Linked DNA regions of Homo sapiens: region 1 is linked to region 2. The links come from fine-mapping of genetic effects on plasma protein levels. Region 2 holds a variant in brackets. A gene starts in the other region. All regions are shown on their reverse strands.

Region 1 (9,618 bases), not on the chromosome of region 2:
TCCATCCTCAGCCCCTTGCGGAGGCGTCAGGGTTCTCACAGCCCCTTTTTAACGGGACCACAAGGGGAAGCTCATGCTGGGCCCAGCATGGAGGCAGGTCCAAGGCCCAGCAGGTGCAGGTGGGCGGGGCGGCCTGTGCCACATGGCTGGAATTTACCACCTTCCTCTGAAGCGTTTTCACTGGTATCATGTGTAGGCTTGTTTTTCTCCCACTGCTGAGTGAGTCATCTTGTTTTTATGTAGAATCCTGTGATTCCTGGCGACAGCCAGTGGGCCCGGCCCAGGTTAGGGATCCTTCAGAACTGGGGTCCAGGCCTGTGTAGCCCCTGTGCCCCGTTACCCCTGCTGGCCCCGGGCAGGCCTTCCGGGGCCCCCGGCTTCTCCCTGCCCTGTGTTTTCATTTGTGCCGCCTCCCTTCGGGAACCTTCCAGAACGTGCCCACACTCCCGCTGCAGCCAATAGGCACCTTAAATAGCCACTTCGTGCGGCTGGCCGCGGAGCTCGGAGGGGGAAAGGCGACGCTGACCTGTGCCCCGCTCGCCCGCAGAGCTACATGGACCCCATGAACGAGTACAACGCGCTGAACGAGGCCAAGCAGATGATCGCCGTCGCCGACGAGAACCAGAACCACCACCTGGAGCCCGAGGAGGTGCTCAAGTACAGCGAGTTCTTCACGGGCAGCAAGCTGGTGGACTACGCGCGCAGCGTGCACGAGGAGTTTTGAGCGCCCGGCCGCGCCCCGCGCCGCCCCCCACGCACCACCGGGGCGGCCTCGCGGGTGACTCCGGGCTCCGTGGCTGTCCCGGACCCCACCTCTTCCCTGCCGCCCGCCACCGGCCGACCGACCGCGGCTGCCCCAGTTGATGAGCGGCGTGTCCCCTCTGCAGCGCGCACCCCGGCGGGGCTTTGGCTGTGACGCGGTCGGGGCGCGGGGCTGGGCTGTGGCCCCGCGGCGCCGCCTCCTCCCTGGTCCCTCGAAATCGTGGCATCTCACTTCTGAGAACGAAATCTCGCTTCAGTCACTCTGCCGAAGGCGCTGACGGCATCGCGGCCGGAACCTCTGGGCCCGGCCCCTCCCAGGGCCGCCGCTCCGTGGGAAAAAACAGCTCCTCCATTTCCTTGAAAACTGAACGATTATTAAAAATAGATTAAACTTCGCTGGAAATGAGTAGCCAGGAAGTTCAGGGGAGGGTGCCGGGTCCTTCCCGGGCCTGGCGTGTCGGAGCCACCCAGGTCCCGCAGCTGCCGCTGAGAAAATGCAAATATTTGTTGTGACAAGAATCACATACATTTACTTTAAATATAGTTGCCTTTTTTGGTCAGCTTCATTCTTTGGGCGTGAAACAAAACACAACAGCAGCGTGCTAGGTTTGTGGTTACAGTTTCCACTGGAGCGCTGGAGGCTGGTGCTGGGTCACGTGGAGGGTTGGAGGTCATGGCCGGTTCGAGGTGATTCTCCTGGCAGGTGGCAACGGGCAGGGGCTCTGGGAGGACGGAGGGCAGCGCTGCGTTTGTGAGTAGGGGTCAGGGGGCAGCAGACGTGCCCACTGAGTTTGGGGTTTGGACATTTAAGGCAGGAGACAGAGCCGCCTGGGGGTTTTGGGTGGAGGATGGCAAGGTCTTTGGGTGCAGTGGGGCAGGCCTAGCCCCAGATGGGGCAGAGAATGGGGTGTGTTAGGACGGCTGGTGGGGGTCCTGCTCTGTGGCGTGTGGGGGCCCAGGCTGTGTCCTGGCTCTCCCAGTGGGAGCTCAGGGAAGCCGGGAGTGTGTCCTCTTCAGTCTGCCCTGTGGTGCCCATGTGACCGGCCTCTGCCCTGAGCCCACCTGCCCAGGGGCCCCTGTGGGGCCGAGAGGGCGGGTTGGCACCTGGGCTGGTTCCCAGGCAAACGAGATTCACAGAGCCACGGCCAGCGCAGGTGGTGGGAGGATGGTCCCACGCCCTGCTCTAAGGGGCTGTAATTCCCTGGAGCCAACCTTCGGTGGCCTGGACTCTGTCTTTCCCCATCCGTGGCCCCAGGCCACAGCCAGGGACCATCATAGCTGCAGCAGCATTCGACGCCCTGTGCTGAGGGCCGTGCACCCAGAGGTGGGAGGTGTGAGCTGAGGCCATGCTGTGCTGGACATGAAGGCGGGGGGACAGCTGGGTATGTGGTGGCACCTGGCCCTTCAGAGGCCCCAGCCAGCTCCAGTCTGGTACTGGAGGAGCAGTGGCCACTCATGGGCTGCCCTGTGCCGCCCGCGACACTACTGTGTGGAGCGGGGAGCCCAGCTCCTGGGGATGTGGTTCGAGCTGCAGGCTGCCTTACAGACCTTGGGGGTCCTGAGCTCTGGGTCAGTGTCCAGCCTCCTGTGGCCACGCCACACCCGGTTCCATGGACACAGCAGGGCTTTCTTGGACCTGTGACCTTAAGCCCAGGACAAGGAGACCTGAGCTTCCTGGGCAGCTTCAAGCAGGAGGGGCCGTGCCCCATCCTGGGGCCATTGCAGTTGCCAGCAATATGCTGGGGGTGCCCTCTCCATGGTGCACGGGCCCCACTCACTGCACCTGTGGGCAGATGTGGCCACTTAGGCCCCAGGAGAGCAGTGTTGCCCACCAAGACCCCCAGTTCACCTGAACCTCCAAGGAACCAATTGCAAATGTAAGCTTTTTCTCACTGTCAGTGGGAAACCCTTGTGAACGCTGGGTGGAACCTTCCACAAAATGCCAGAACTTTCCTCCTCTGCCCACCTGGGTTGGGGTGTGCACATGCAGGTACACACACTGTCTGGGATGCTCTGAGCCCTTCCAGGGTCCTCTCTACTTGTGGGGACGTGGGGAGGGTGACCAACTTAGGGACCCTCAGTCCGAGGGCGGGTGGCCTCTCCCTCCACTCCCTCCCTCTCCAGGGCCAGCGGGCTCCACGGCTGGGAATTTCCCCACGGGTGGGCCGAGGACAGGCAGCTGTTTCCTGTGCTCCTGGGAGGAGGGGATTTCCAGCCCCTTCCCTGCTGCTCTGTTCCTAGAGGCCCCTCTCCACTTGCAACTTCAAAAATGAACTTTTGGATAATCACAGGCTGGTCACAGTTATTTGAAAGGTGCAGAAAGGGCCCAGGGAGCCCCCAGCCCCGCACCTGCTCCCCAGCTCTCCGGGCAGTTCGCATCCTCTGGGCAAACCTGGAACCTGAGAACTGTTTGCATAGAAGGTGGAAACCTGCCTGCGTGCCCGTGTGCGCCAGGCCATCCAGGACCCACCCTCACCACCTCCTCAGAGGCCTGTCTCCAAACACTGCCACATGGGGGTTAGGGCTTCCACGCAGGAATTTAAGGGGCACAGTTCAGCCATAGACACCTGCCGTGCTCAGGCACACTCAGCGTGGGCTGTGGTCACGGGTGTCTTTTTTTTTTTTTTTGAGATGAGTCTCGCCCTGTCGCCCAGGCTGGAGTGCAGTGGCGCCACCTCTGCTTTGCAACTTCTGTCTCCTGGGTTCGAGTGATTCTGCTACCTCAGCCTCCTGACTAGCTGGGATTACCGGCGCCCGCCACCACGCCCGAATAATTTTTGTAGTTTTAGTAGAGACGGGATTTCGCCATGTTAGCCAGACTGGTCTTGAACTCCTGACCTCAGGTGATCCACCCGCCTTGGCCTCCCAAAGTGCTGGGATTACAGGCGGGAGCCACCGTGCCTGGCCATGGGTGTCTGTCTTACCATGGCTGTGGTCACTGCTGCTCAGAGCTAGTCTTGGGCATACAAGGGGGACCATGCTTCAGCAGTGCCACAGCCCTGAAGGTCCAGACTGAGGAGTTGCCTCTCCTGACTCAGTGCTGCCTCAGTTTACCCACGTGCTCCATGGACCTTTTTGCTGAGGGTCGAGCCGCAGGCCAGGCCCTACTGTGCCCTGGGGTCTGAACACGGTGGTCTTGGGCAGAAGAGGTCAGAAGGCAGAATAAGCCAATGCTGGGGGTGCCCAGACCCCGCCTTTGTGCCCAGCCCACAGCCAGGGTCCCCGGCCTGCCACCTTCCTCCTCCCGCCTCCTCTGCCCTCCTCCCCTCTCCCCTCCCCTCCTCCACAGTCCTTATAGCCACACCCCGCAAGGAAAACCCAGACTCTGGCGACAGCAGAGACGAGGATGTGCGTGGGGGCTCGGCGGCTGGGCCGCGGGCCGTGTGCGGCTCTGCTCCTCCTGGGCCTGGGGCTGAGCACCGTGACGGGGCTCCACTGTGTCGGGGACACCTACCCCAGCAACGACCGGTGCTGCCACGAGTGCAGGCCAGGTGAGGCCTCAGGAGGGGTCGCCACGCACGGGCACTCCAGGGACTGGGGGCTGGGGCAGGGATGGGCCAGCCAGGAGGCTGGTCCTGGGGAGGGGGCGGGTGAGGGGCCGGCCAAGCCTGGCAGAGGAGCCGCCTGGGGGGGTCCACGGGCGCAAGCCTGGGGCCTGACCGCTGCCTGACGCCGGCCTCTGCTGCAGGCAACGGGATGGTGAGCCGCTGCAGCCGCTCCCAGAACACGGTGTGCCGTCCGTGCGGGCCGGGCTTCTACAACGACGTGGTCAGCTCCAAGCCGTGCAAGCCCTGCACGTGGTGTAACCTCAGTGAGCTCCCACCTGGCCCCACAGCCCCACCCAGCACAGGGGGCGGCAGCCTGGCACCCACATTCCCACGCAGCAGCATGGGGCTCCCACAGCCGCAGAAACGAACCTCAAACCACAGCGGGGTCTGCTCCGCCACAGGGGTCCTTCGAGGAGCTGAGGCGTCTCCCAGGGGCACCCCCTCTCCCTCCGGGGGCCCAGACTCGGCCCAGGCCACGTGGAGTCGGGGAGACCACGCTGGCCATGTGGCCTGGCCTTGCTGGCCTGAGCAGTGAGGCTGGGGGGTTGGGCCATGGAGACCCTGCCGCAGGCGGGGCTGGCGGCTGGAGGCGGTGGAGGGGTAGGGAAGGGTGGCTGGGGCTGCCACGGAACCAGCCCCAGGTTGTGGCCAGGAAGGGAGGGCCCAGGAGCCTCGGGGGCTGCAGGGGCTCCAAGTCTCAGGGGAGGCCGCAGACCCCTGCCCACGGCCCTCTGTGTGGTGGGGAGGCCAACCTGTCCTCCAGTGCCCACGCTTCCTGAGGACCCTGTCCACAGCCCCCACCTGACCACCCCCCCATCCGGCCCCTGCTCAGGAAGTGGGAGTGAGCGGAAGCAGCTGTGCACGGCCACACAGGACACAGTCTGCCGCTGCCGGGCGGGCACCCAGCCCCTGGACAGCTACAAGCCTGGAGTTGGTGAGCTCGGTGGCTGCGGCCGGCGGTTGGGGGTGTGCATAGCGGCTGTCTGTGACGCAGATGGGCCGTGGGCCGCAGGGACCTGGCCCCACCGGTGCCTCCTCTGGCATCCTCAAGACCGAGCTCCCGGGTCAGGGCCCACGGGTGGGATGTGGGCAGGGAGGGCTTCCAGAGGCCAAACCCACCACCCAGCCATGGGGGGCAAGTGCCTGCCCCACAGGCTCTGCCCCATGTCCCCAGCACCCGGGGCCTGTGGGCAGCCCCTGACCACCCTATCTTTGTTGCAGACTGTGCCCCCTGCCCTCCAGGGCACTTCTCCCCAGGCGACAACCAGGCCTGCAAGCCCTGGACCAAGTGAGGGGCCTGGCCAGGGGCTGGGAGGGGCTGGGGGGGGGTTGGGGTGGTTAGGAGGGCGGAGGAGCTGGGGAGCTGGGAGGGGCTGGGGGGGCAGGTGGGGTGGGGGCAGTTTTGGGGGAAGGGGAGGTGCTGGTGGCCCTGGGGGCCTGGCTATGTGGCTGGACCTGGTTGGGGAGCAGGAAGCTGCTGCCTGGGGGCAGCCTTTCCCTGTGGGTGGAGCTGGGTGTGTGGGACCCTCACCCTCCGCAGCTGGGAGGCCCTGGGGGCACAGGACAGGGAGGTGCTGGTGGGGGGTGTAGATGTGGGAGAAGGGTGTGTGGCCTTGGAGGCCCCTGTGGGGGGCACGTGGGGCTGGGCAGCGTCCTTGGCTGTCACTGGCCTGGTGTCTGTGGTAGATGCTGCCTGTGGCTGGCCAGCGTGGACCCTGTTATCCCCACCGCATCTCCCGGGTCCCAGGGGGTTTCTGGCCTGAGCAACACCTCCTGTTCCCCAACAGCTGCACCTTGGCTGGGAAGCACACCCTGCAGCCGGCCAGCAATAGCTCGGACGCAATCTGTGAGGACAGGGACCCCCCAGCCACGCAGCCCCAGGAGACCCAGGGCCCCCCGGCCAGGCCCATCACTGTCCAGCCCACTGAAGCCTGGCCCAGAACCTCACAGGGACCCTCCACCCGGCCCGTGGAGGTCCCCGGGGGTAAGGGCGCCTGGCCCAGCCCAGCGGGGCCCCCAACCCGAATAGGAGAAGGGGAGGGCGGCATGGGGGCCCCTCCTGTGGACCCCACCCAGCAGACCCCTTCCTGCAGGCCGTGCGGTTGCCGCCATCCTGGGCCTGGGCCTGGTGCTGGGGCTGCTGGGCCCCCTGGCCATCCTGCTGGCCCTGTACCTGCTCCGGAGGGACCAGAGGCTGCCCCCCGATGCCCACAAGCCCCCTGGTGAGTGCCTCATGGCCCTGCCGCACTGCTCCTGGCGGGTGAGGCCCACCCACCAATCTCTCCTTTTTTCCTCCCCAGGGGGAGGCAGTTTCCGGACCCCCATCCAAGAGGAGCAGGCCGACGCCCACTCCACCCTGGCCAAGATCTGACCTGGGCCCACCAAGGTGGACGCTGGGCCCCGCCAGGCTGGAGCCCGGAGGGTCTGCTGGGCGAGCAGGGCAGGTGCAGGCCGCCTGCCCCGCCACGCTCCTGGGCCAACTCTGCACCGTTCTAGGTGCCGATGGCTGCCTCCGGCTCTCTGCTTACGTATGCCATGCATACCTCCTGCCCCGCGGGACCACAATAAAAACCTTGGCAGACGGGAGTCTCCGACCGGCACTGTGGGCTGCACACCTGTGGCATGGAGGCTTGGGCCGTGCCCGCCTCTGACTGGAGAGGGGTCTTGGGAGGCTTGGGCCGTGCCCGCCTCTGGCTGGACAGGGGTCTTGGGAGGCTTGGGCCGTGCCCGCCTCTGGCTGGAGAGGGGTCTTGGGAGACTTGGGCCGTGCCAACCTGTGGCTGGAAAGGGGTCTTGGGAGACTTGGGCCGTGCCAACCTGTGGCTGGAGAGGGGTCTTGGGAGACTTGGGCTGTGCCAACCTGTGGCTGGAGAGGGGTCTTGGGCCAGGGTGGAGGTGAGGGTAGCGGGGTCAAGTGGGACCCTGGAGGTTGGTCCCTGGGTGCGAGTTCCAGATTGAGTGGGGAGCGGGGGGAGAGACTGGGAAAGCTCAGGCCCAAGGCTGCCTGGGGTGGAGGTTCCTGGCCAGGCGCTGACAAGGGCAGCTGGCCCCTGAGCCCCGGGTTGCCCAAGGAGCTTGGGAGTGGCTGACCCCCGGGGCTCTGTGTCCTTGGAGGAGGAGTGTAGAGACCTGCCCCTCTTCCCCTCCACACCTACGCCCACCCCTTGCTGCACCTGGAAGGGGGTCCCAGGGCCCCTGAGCACCCCGAGGAGTCCCTGCAAAGGGCCCACACGGCCCCTATGTCCCTGCCATAGGTGTCCAGGGGGACAGTCACCTTGGAAACCACAGTTTCTGCTTGAGCCAACTTTCTGTCCACCCTGGGCCCCGGCCGTCCCACTCCTGCGCACTTAAGAGTCCTGGGATCTGAATGAGAATGACCACAGCGACTTCATGTAACGTGGCCCCACAGTGGAGAAACCCAGGCATCCGCCAGCAGCGTGGATGCGCGAGTGCTGGCGTGTTCAGATGAGCTCCCAGCTCCTCGGCCCACACCACAGGTGTCCACAGACGCTCCCAAGGCCCTGGGGCCGTCCCCGGCCGTGCGGGAATCTTCTCAAGCTGGTGTCTGGGAGTGGGGTATCCTTCGAGCAGCACAGAGCCTGCTCCCGAGCGCCAGTCACGCCCGAGGCCACAGCTCGGGAACAAGGCGGGAGCAGCCCTGCAGGCTTCCCGCAGGGAAGACACCCCGGGCGTCTAAGCGACATCTGTGTCCCTCGGGAGGCGGAGGTGCCTGTTCGCCTCCATGGTGTCAGGGGCTGAAGAGAAACACTCCCGAGGGCTAAGACGTCTCACTGCACTTGTTTTTTCTTTCTTTTTTTTTTTTTGCCGGAGTCTTGCTGTGTCACCCAGGCTGGAGTGCAGTGGTGTGATCTCAGCTCACCAACCTCTGCCTCCCGGGTTCACGCCATTCTCCTGCCTCAGCCTCCCAAGTAGCTGGGACTACAGGCGCCCAGCACCACACCCGGCTAATTTTTGTATTTTATTAGAGACAGGGTTTCACCATGTTGGCTAAGCTGGTCTTGAACTCCTGACCTCAGGTGATCCACCTGCCTCGGTGCCCTGGAGTACTGCGATTCCAGGTGTGAGCCACCACGCCTGGCCCTCACTGCACTCATGAGCAAGAAACACACAGCCGAGGCCGGTCACGGTGGCTCACGCCTAGAATCCTAGCACTTTGGGAGGCTGAGGCCAGACGATCGTCTGAGCTCAGGAGTTTGAGACCCGCCTGGGTAACATGGCAAGACCCTTTTCTATGAAAAATAGAAAAAATCAGCCGGGTGTGGTGGTGCATGCCTGTGGTCCCGGCTACTTGGGAGGCCGAGGTGGGAGGATCACTTGAGCCCAAGAGATGGAGGCTGCAGTGAGACGTGACTGGAAAAAAAAAAAGAAATTTAAAAAAATTACTTAAGAAGAAACACATGAAGCCTCATGGAAGGTTTTGCTGAGGGCCTGGCACAGCCTGGACACTCCGGCTACCGTGGCTGGTGTGGCCCAGCCCCGCAGCTGCACCCGCTGCCCCACACAGCGTCCCTGGGCCAGCCTTCCCTCTCCCTGCGTCCTCCAACAGCGCACGCTGCCCACGGCTGTCCAGGCCTCCTGTGCCTGGCGGATGGCTCCCCCCTGCCGGTGTCGTGGAAGTGGGGAACCGGCCCCGGGGGTGCACAGTGGGAGCGCCACGCGCCACTCACAACAGCCCAAGGTGCCGGGACCACAGGTGGCTGTAAGGAAGACGCCCATCTCTGGCCTCGGGCTGCCCTGGACCCCTCCTGCCTCTGCAGCTGGTTTTCTCCCCTGGGTCTCTCTCTCCTCAAACCTCTGTCTTCCACCCACTCTCTGCTAACCACAAGCCTCCCCCCCCGCAGCATAGGGAAGTCAGAGGCCGTCCTGTCCCCCATCCAGCACCTTCACCGAGTTCCCCGGGTTCCTGCACACGGTTCAGCCTGCAGGCCCTGCACAGGGTTGGGGCCGCGCCTCTGAGAGCCCCCCGCCCCCCGCCCCGTGGGGCAGGCGAGGCCAGACCTCCAGGCAGGATGGCGGGTGGGTGGGGGAAGGGGTCAGGTGGCCGGGACTGGAGCGGCCAGATCCTGTGGGGCCCGCAGGTCGACGGCTATGGGAAAGGGGCCTCCTCCCCAAACCTGGCGCCCATACCCATCGCTTCCTGTCTCCTCCCCTCTGGGCACAGCACCCCCCAGGCCCCGTGGGACTTATTCCCCAGCAGGACCCCTTGCCGCACCCCCAGATGGACACGGGGCCACCTCCTCTTGGTCTCCATGCTCACCCTCCCCGCCCCCTCGCCTGACGCCATCTC
Region 2 (9,452 bases):
CATGTCAACCAACTCAACACAAAGGTCTTTATTAGTATCTTTACCTTGCATATCTTTTTTTTTTTTTTTTGAGATGGAGTTTCGCTCTTATTGCCCAGGCTGGAGTGCAATGACGTGATCTCGGTTCACCGCAACCTTCGCGGTGGATTTACATACATTATAAATCCAGGTTCAAGTGATTCTCCTACCTCAGCCTCCCAAGAAGCTGGGATTACAGGAATGCGCCACCACGCTCAGCTACTTTTGTATTTTTAGTAGAGATGAGGTTTCTCCATGTTGGTCAGGCTGGTCTGAAACTCCTAACCACAGGTGATCCACCCACCTCGGCCTCCCAAAGTGCTGAGATTACAGGCGTGAGCCACCACGCCCGGCCTACCTTGTATATCTTCTATTTTGAATGACTGGCCTATCGAATTGCATATATTAAGTGACAATAACTGTATAGCTACCAAAACACTTGTACAAAAATATTCATTGCCACTTTATTCATAATAGAAAAACATTTTGTTTTTTAATCATAAAAATGTATAAACAAATAGTGCTACATTACTATTCATACAATGGAATACTATGCATTATAAAAATTGTTGTGTTACTACTCATACAATGGAATACTATGCAGCAATTTTTTTGTTTGTTTGTTTGTTTTTGAGACAGAGTCTCACTCCATCACCCAGGCTGGAGTGCAGTGGTGCAATCTTGGCTCACTGCAAGCTCCACGTCCCGGGTTCACACCATTCTCCTGCCTCAACCTCCCAAGTAGCTGGGACTACAGGCGCCCGCCACGACGCCCAGCTAAATTTTTTTGTATTTTTAGTAGAGACGGGGTTTCACCATGTTAGCCAGGATGGTATTGGTCTCCTGACCTCATGATCCGCCGCCTGCCTTGGCCTCCCAAAGTGCTGGGATTACAGGCGTGAGCCACTGTGCCCGGCCACTATGCAGCAATTAAGAAAAAAAAAAAAGTGATGGCCAGGCATGGTGGCTCACGTCTGTAATCCCAGCACTTTGGGAGGCTGAGGTGGGAGGATCACCTGAGGTCAGCAGACCGATACCAGCCTGGCCAACATGGTGAAACCCCGTCCCTACTAAAAATACAAAAATTAGCTGGGCGTGGTGGCAGGCACCTGTAATCTCACCTACTGGGGAGGCTGAGGCAGGAGAATCGCTTGAACCCGGGAGGCGGAAGTTGCAGTCGGCCGAGATCTCACCACTGCACTCCAGCCTGGGCAACAAGAGTGAAACTCCCACTCAAAAAAAATAAAAATAAAAATAAAAAGACACATGTAATTTTAAAGACACATGTAATGACACAGTTTCCAATACGAGGTAGTGTTATCCCAAAGCACAAAACAATATATGCAAAAGGTTACTATATTCATTGAGGCATTATATATCATTTTAAAATATTAGACACAACTAAATCGCTACCTGCTGGTGACAGTATATAGAAGTTATAAAATATTCACATGATAGAATGCGATCCAGCTGATTAAAAAGATGAGAGAGATCACTAAAAGATTTAGGTAACTGAAAAAAATTACAGAGAAATATATTTAATGTTCTACTTGATGTGTAAAAATAAAAGGAAAATAGTAATAAAAATATTAATTTGCTTATTTTTATAAAAAGAAACATAGGGCCAGGCATGGTGGCTCATGCCTATAATCCCAGCACTTTGGGAGGCTGAGACAGGCAGATCCCTTGAGGCCAAGAGTTGGAGATTAGCCTGGACAACATGGTGAAACCCCATCTCTACTAAAAATACACAAATTAGCTGGGTGTGGTAGTGTACACCAGGCGCTGTAATCCCAACTACTTAGGTGGCTGAGTCATGAAAATCACTTGAACCCAGGAGGTGGAGGTTGCGGTGAGCCAAGATCACACCACTGCACTCCAGTCTGGGCAACAGAGCAAGATTGTCTCAAAAAAAAAAAAGAAAAAAAGAAAAAGAATGAAAGAAACACAGAAGGGTAAACAAGAAATTAATAGAAATGGCTACCTACAGAATGGAGATAGTGTGCAAGGGAGTAGGAGTAAGAATGAGATTTCTCAGGCCAGGCGCGATAGCTCATGCCTGTAACCCCAGCACTTTGGGAAGCCAAGGCAGATGGATCACTTTAAGTCAGGAGTTCAGGACCAGCCTGGCCAACATGGTAAAACCTAGTCTCTACAAAAAATACAAAAATTAACTTGGCATGGTGGTACATGTCTGTAATCCCAGCTACTCAGGAGGCTGAGGCAGGAGAACTGCTTGAACTCAGGAGGCAGAGGTTGCAGTGAGCCAAGATTGTGGCCACTGCACTCCAGCCTGGGAAAAAGAGCAAGACTTTGTCTCAAAAAAAAAAAAAAAAAAAGGCCAGGCATGGTAGCTCATGCCTGTAATTCCAGCACTTTGGGAGGCCAAGGCAGGCAGATCACCTGAGGTCAGGAGTTTGAGACCAGCCTGGTCGACATGGTGAAACCCCATCTCTACTAAAAATACAAAAATTAGCTGGGCATGGTGGCATGCACCTGTAATCCCAGCCACTCCGGAGGCTGAGACAGGAGAATAGCTTGAACCCAGGAGGCTGAGGTTGCAGTGAGCTGAGATCACGCCATTGCACTTCAGCCTGGGCAATAAGACTGAAACTCCATCTCAAAAAAAAAAAATAGATCGTTATCAATCAGCATGGAGCTCAAAAAAAAATTTTTAAGTTGCAAAATGATACATACATTATAAATCCATGTATGTGAATTTTTTAAACACACAAACCAACTTTATATTGTTCATACACAGTACAAGTGCAGTACAACTATAAAAACACGTTCAGGAAGAATATATGCCAACCTCTTGGTGGTTTCCTCTGGGGAAAGAGGGAGGGAAACGGGCCTGGGCAGGGAAGCAAAGGGGACCACAACTTCCTCAGTCATGTTTTACTTGTTGATAAAGGAAAGTGATCTGAAGAAACTCTTAACAAGTATTTTTCTTATTAAGAAGTCAACAAAGTCTGAGTGTGGTGGCTCATGCCTGTAATCCCAACACTTTGGGAGGCTGAGGCAGGAGGATCACTTGAGGCTAAGAGTTAAAGATCAGCCTTGGTAATACAGTGAGACCTCATCTCTACAAAAAATATTTTTTAAAAATGCTGAGCATGGTGGCACAAGCCTGGAGTCCCAGCTACCCGGGAGGCTGAGGCGGGAGGATCACTTAAGCCCAGGAGTTCAAGGCTGCTGTAAGCTGTGATCGTACCACTGCACTCCAGCCTGGGCAACAGAGCAACAGCTTGTCTCAAAAAAAGAAGGCCAGGCATAGTGGCTCACGCCTGTAATCCTAACACTTTGGGAGGCCGAGGCAGGATTGCTTGAGGCCAGAAGTTCAAGGCCAACCTGGCCAACATTGGAAGATCCCACCTCTATTTAAAAAAAAAAAAAAATTGAAAAGAAATAAAATTTTTAAATAAATCAACAGGAAGGAAAAGAAAAATGCAGAAACCAGGTTCAAGATGTGTGGAACAAGTCTCAAGCACTGGAGGGCTTAAGAACTTCTATGACCTGCTCCAACTCACCTTCCATGAGGTCTCAGAGGGAGAAGAAGGGCCCTCCTTACTCCTCTTCTGCTAAATGTCCAGGAGGCCACTCCCCAAACCCTGAAGGCAGCCCAGGGCTCAGATAAGGCCTTCAAACTCGAAATGCAGGCAGCAAGCTATCCAAGCATGGTTTTACCACTTCCTACCTAGAAAACACTCTCAGGATCCTCTCTTTTCATTCCAACTTACCTAACGGAAAGTGTGAAGTCTCCAGGGTTACTTTTACTAGGCCTTGCCAAAAAACTGCCATCAACTCCTCTTGTCAACAGTAGGTTTTCTGCCTCCACACCAGTGATATTTGGGTGAAACCATCTTAAAAAGAAAGACAAAGTAAGTAATAAAAAAACAAGACACTGTCAGCACTACTTTCCACAACAACACAGCTAAGACGCATTATGAGCAGAGTAGAAAATTTTAGAAAATACAAATCAAGACCTTCCCTGTCCCTTCCCCCTCTTCTCCTTGGTCAATGCCTCCTCCCTGCCTTTCCCTTGGTAGAGACCTGGGATTCAGTAGGGGTGTCTGGGGATATGATCAGAGGGACTGGGGGCTAGGGTATTAAGACAGTGCACTGAGGGGGCCAGGCCCAAGAAAACAGACCACGTGCTCGCAAGACTGAGCACATGGAATAAAAATAAATAAACTAGAGGCAGGGCACGGTGGCTCACGCCTGTAATCCCAGGACTTTGGGAGGCCGAGGCAGGCAGATCAGCTGGGGTCGGGAGTTCCAGAGCAGCCTGACCAACATGGAGAAACCCATCTCTACTAAAAATACGAAATTAGCTGGGCATGGTGGTGCATGCCTGTAATCCCAGCTACTTGAGAAGCTGAGGCAGGAGAATCGCTTGAACCCAGGAGGCAGAGGTTGCGGTGAGCCAAGATCACACCACTGCACTCCAGCTTGGGCAACAAGAG[C/T]GAAACTCAATCTCAGAAAAAAAAAAAAAAAAAGAATAAGTTTCTTAATAAATAAGTTACCATGTTGAGGATAGCAAGCCAGGTTTCTCACTGTTGGGGAGACACAAATATGAGAAGGGAGAAAGCCAGAATAAATCCCATGATGTTAGATTGTAATTGGAGGTATTAGTGCAAACTGTAATTTTTAATATATACATGTAAAGACAGAAATGTAGATATAGAAATAGATATGTATGCTTCTGGATGGGAACAGTGGCTCACGCCTATAATCCCAGCACTTTGGGAGGCCGAGGCGGGCAGATCACTTGACGTCAGGAGTTCAAGACCATCCTGGCCAATGTGGTGAAACCCCATCTCTACTAAAAATACAAAAATTAGGTGGGCGTGGTGGTGGACACCTGTAATCCCAGCTACTCAGGAGGCTGAGACAGGAGAATTGCTTGAATCCAGGAGGCAGAGGTTGCAGTGAGCCATGATCGTGCCACTGTACTCCAGCCTGGGCGACAGAGCAAGACTCCATCTCAAAAAAATAATAATAATACAGAAATACATGCTTCGGGGTATGTGTATGTGTATGTGCTTTTATGAATACACACACACACACACATATATATATACACACACACACACATTTCCTAGGTCTCTTCTGAAAGGGTTTGGAAGCAATGACACTCCAGTAGCAATCACACCTAACACCTCTATCTTGGTTTCTACATATTGGGTTTTCCATTCTCCAATGAAAGGAACTGGCCTCCTTGAAGAAATGGCTGATCCCAGCGTTGGGGCAGTAAAAGTAAGAAGATGAACTTGGAACATCCTATTGTGGGCCAGTAAGAGTTCCAACAAGGAGCTATGAAAAGGACACAGGAGACAAACTGCAGGATCCTCTGCTGGCCAAAGTAGGGACAATTTGTACCTCAAAATAAACAATGATAGTAACAGATTATAACCCACTGAATAAAACAGGAAATAGTTCATTCTCTTAGTTTCCTATTTTTTTAACTAATTGTTTGTTTAAAAATTGAAACATGGAGGCCAGGTGCGGTGGCTCACACCTGTAATCCCAGAATTTTGGGAGGCTGAGGCAGGCAGATCACCTGAGGTCGGGAGTTCGGGAGCAGCCTGACCAACATGGAGAAACCCATCTCTACTAAAAATACAAAATTAGTTGGGCGTGGTGGCGCGTGCCTGTAATCCCAGCTACTTGAGAGGCTGAGGCAGGAGAATCGCTTGAACCCGGGAGGCGGAGGTTGCAGTGAGCCAAGATCGTGCCACTACACTCCAGCCTGGGTGACAGAGTGAGACCTTGTCTCAAAAAAGAAAAAAAAAAAACTTGGAAGTACCATATGATCCAGAAATTCCACTTCCAGGTATATACTCAAAGTAATTGAAAACACGGATTCAAATTGGTATTTTTCTATAACTCATATTCACAGCAGCATTATTTGCAAAGCCAAAAGGTGAAAGAAAACAGTGTCTATAGATGGATGAATAGACAAACATTCTAAGTGAACTAAGCCAGTCACTAAAGGACAATGCTATAGTTTGAATGCCGCTCCCCTGAGGTTGAAACTTAATCCTCAGCCAGGCACAGTGGTTCACGCCTATAATCCCAGCACTTTAGGGGGCTGTGATGGGAAGATCACTTGAGCCCAGGAGTTCAAGACCAGCCTGGGCAATATAGTGAAACCCCATCTCTACAAAAAATGCAAAAATTAGGGCCAGGCGCAGTGGCTTACACCTGTAATCCTAGCATTTTGGGAGGCCAAGGCAGGTGGATCACTTGAGCCCAGGAGTTCAAGACCAGCTTGGGCAACATGGCGAAACCCAGTCTCTACAAAAAAATATAAAAATTAGCCATGCATGGTGGTGTGTGCCTATAGTCCCAGCTACTAAGGAGGCTGAGGTGGGAGGATCGCCTGAGCCCAGGAGGTCCAGGTTGCAGTGAGCCAAGATCATACCACTGCACTCCAGGCCAGGCAACAGAATAAGACCCTGTCTCAAAAAAAAAAAAAAAAAGACCGGGCACAGTGGCTCACACCTGTAATCCCAACAGTTTGGGAGGCCAAGGCGGGCGGATCATGAGGTCAGGAGTTCGAGACTAGTCTGACCAACATGGCAAAACCCCGTCTCACAAAATTCCAAAATTAGCTGGGCAAGGTGGCGCAGGCCTGCAATCCCAGTTACTCGGGAGGCTGAGGCAGGAGAATCGCTTGAACCCGGGAGACGGAGGTTGCAGTGAGCCAAGATCGCATCATTATACTCCAGCCTGGGCAACATAAGCAAAATTCCATCTCCAAAAAAAAAAAAAAAGATACAACCATGAAGAGGAGTTTGGCGGGATGCAAAGAAATATCCTAATTAAAGGCCAGTAACAAGACTTAGCAAGTAACACAATGCATTAATGCATAACCTGGACATATAATGGACCAAAACAAACAAAATAAAAGGGAACAGTTTTTGTTGTTGTTTTGTCTTTTGCTATAAGGATATTACTAAAACAATTTGAAAGAGATATAAGGATTTGATGGTAGTCTTGTTATAATATACATTTGGTGATATACTGTGGTTATGTAACCAAGTGTCCTTGTATTTAAGAAATACACACTGAAGTATTTTGGAGCAATGAGACGCCATGTCTGCAACTTACCCTCAAGTGGTTCCAACAAAACTTAAATATAGAGACACATATATGTACACATGTATATATACATGTGTATTTTATATGTAGATATGTATTTTATATATAAAATACATACATATACATACATATATGTGTAGTGTATATATAATTTATATATATATATATATATATATATATATATATATATATATATATATAAAAAGAGAGAGAGAGAGAGGAGAGAGAGTAAACATGGTACAGGTTGAGTATCCCAAATCTAAAATGCTGCAAAATCCATGGCCAGGCGCGGTGGTTCACTCCTGTAATCCCAGCACTTTGGGAGGCGGAGGCAGGTGGACCACCTGAGGTCAGGAGTTCGAGACCAGCCTGGCCAACACGGTGAAACCCTGTCTCTACTAAAAATACAAAAATTAGCCGGCCGTGGTGGCAAGCGCCTATAGTCCCAACTACTCAGGGGGCTGAGGCAGGAGAATCACTTGAACCCAGAAGGTGAAGTTTGCAATAAGCCAAGATCGCTCACTGCACTCCAGCCTGGGTGATGGAGCAATACTCCATCTCAAAAAATAAATTAATTAAATAAATTTAAAAAGTGCCCACATAACACTCAAAGGAAATGCTCATCATAGCATTTCAGATATTTCAGATTTGAGATTTGGGGATTAGAGATGCTTAAGTATATAATAAAAATATTCCAAAATTCGAAAAAATCTGAAATCCAAAACACTTCTGGTCCCAAGCATTTTGGATAAGGGATACTCAACCTGTATAAGGTTGACTTGTAAATCTGGATGAAAAGTTAACACGAATTATTTGTACTATTTTGCAACTCTTATTTAAATTTGAAATTATTTCAAAATAAAATGTTTTTTAAAACCCATAAATGATGAAATCCATCATGAATGGCATCTGCTTCAGAGGAGTCCTCTCTAGTTACCAGCAAAAAGATATTCTTGGGCAGGCGCGGTGGCTCACGCCTGTAATCCCAGCACTTTGGGAGGCCGAGGCGGGCGGATCACAAGGTCAGGAGATCGAGACCATCCTGGCTAACACAGTGAAACCCCCTCTCTACTAAAAATGCAAAAAAATTAGCCAGGCGTGGTGGCATGTGCCTGTAATCCCAGCTACTCGGGAGGCTGAGGCAGGAGAATGGCGTGAACCCAGTAGGCGGAGCTTGCAGTGAGCCCAGATCACCACTGCACTCCAGCCTGGGCGACAGAGTGAGACTCCGTCTCAAAAAAAAAAAAAAGATATTCTTCATGGATTTCAAAAGTCATTGAGATTCATGGTAACAGTAACTTCTAAAGTCAAATTATCCTGGACCTTTCTAAGCTAATAGAATGCTCTGAAATGCTCCCAGGAATATGTCAATATTAAATGTAGAGTTCTAGTACTGACAATCAAGTGAACTTTTAAGAGACTTCTCCACAAATATTGACCCAATTCAAGTATCTTACAACAGTGAAGGAGACCAGGCACAGTGGCTCACACCTGTAATCCCAGCACTTTGGGAGGCCAAGGTGGGAGGATCACCTGAGGTCAGGAGTTCAAGACCAGCCTGGGCAAAATGGCAAAACCCTGTCTCTACAAAAAAATACGAACATTAGCCAGGTGTGGTGGCATATGCCTGTAGTCCCAGCTACTCAGGAGGCTAAGGTGGGAGGATTGCTTGAGTCTGGGAGGCAGAGAATGCAGTGAGCAGAGATCGCACCACTGCACTCCAGCCTAGGCAATCGAGCAAGACCTCTTCTCAGATTTAAAAAAAAAAGGCTGGGCAAGGTGGCTCATGCTTGTAATCCCAGCACTTTGGGAGGCCGAGGCAGGTGGATCACCTGAGGTCGGGAGCTTAAGACCAGCCTGACCAACATGGAGAAACCCTGTCCCTACTAAAAATACAAAATCAGCCGGGCATGGTGGCGCATGCCTGTAATCCCAGTTACTCAGGAGGCTGAGGCAGAAGAATCGCTTGAACCCGGGAAGCGGAGGGTGCGGTGAGCCAAGATCGCCACCACTGCACTCTAGCCTGGGCAACAACGCAAAACTCCATCTCAAAAAAAAAAAAAAAAGAAAAGAAAAGAAAAATCGTAAAGCTCAGATCAAAATAATGAAATATTCATTTGCTTTTTACTCTCTCTGAGAGCTTGTCAGAAGATTGAGTCTGGGCCCGGTGACTCATGCCTATAATCCCAGCACTTTGGGAAGAGCTGAGGCAGGAGGATTACCTGAGGTCAGGAGTTTGAGGCCAGCCTGGGCAACATGGCAAAACCTCATCTGTACTAAAAATACAAAAATTAGCCAGGCATGGTGGCACACATCTGTAATCTCAG

Direction of the effects. Positions count from the first base shown, and alleles are read on the strand shown. Strength reflects both the effect of a copy and how common the allele is.
With allele C in place of T in region 2, the plasma level of the protein whose gene starts at base 4,083 in region 1 is lower (moderate association).

The links. A credible set is the group of variants that fine-mapping cannot tell apart. PIP is the chance, under the fine-mapping model, that this variant and not a neighbour inherited with it causes the effect. The UK Biobank Pharma Proteomics Project read protein levels with antibody pairs (Olink). The fine-mapping took linkage between variants from a reference panel, not from the people measured, so its PIPs are less certain.
Region 1: TNFRSF4 starts here. The variant in region 2 is the best candidate, but not a certain one, in a credible set for the plasma level of the TNFRSF4 protein (UK Biobank, PIP 0.55).

The regions. Positions count from the first base shown.
Region 1 is chr1:1,208,618-1,218,235 of GRCh38, reverse strand. TNFRSF4 (TNF receptor superfamily member 4) reads left to right here and starts at 4,083. Exons shown (of 7, transcript NM_003327.4): 1 at 4,083-4,253; 2 at 4,451-4,573; 3 at 5,143-5,244; 4 at 5,532-5,598; 5 at 6,098-6,294; 6 at 6,404-6,532; 7 at 6,611-6,896. The coding sequence starts at 4,109. The coding sequence ends at 6,681. SDF4 (stromal cell derived factor 4) reads left to right here. Exons shown (of 7, transcript NM_016176.6): 7 at 548-1,305. The coding sequence ends at 724. RefSeq lists silencers at 4,956-5,005, 9,209-9,318 and an enhancer at 9,185-9,618.
Region 2 is chr12:112,440,705-112,450,156 of GRCh38, reverse strand. PTPN11 (protein tyrosine phosphatase non-receptor type 11) reads right to left here. Exons shown (of 16, transcript NM_002834.5): 2 at 3,759-3,881. Among named protein-coding and RNA genes, the nearest start is that of PTPN11, 26 kb to the right of the region's middle. The variant C/T (reference allele first, on the strand shown) is at 4,485.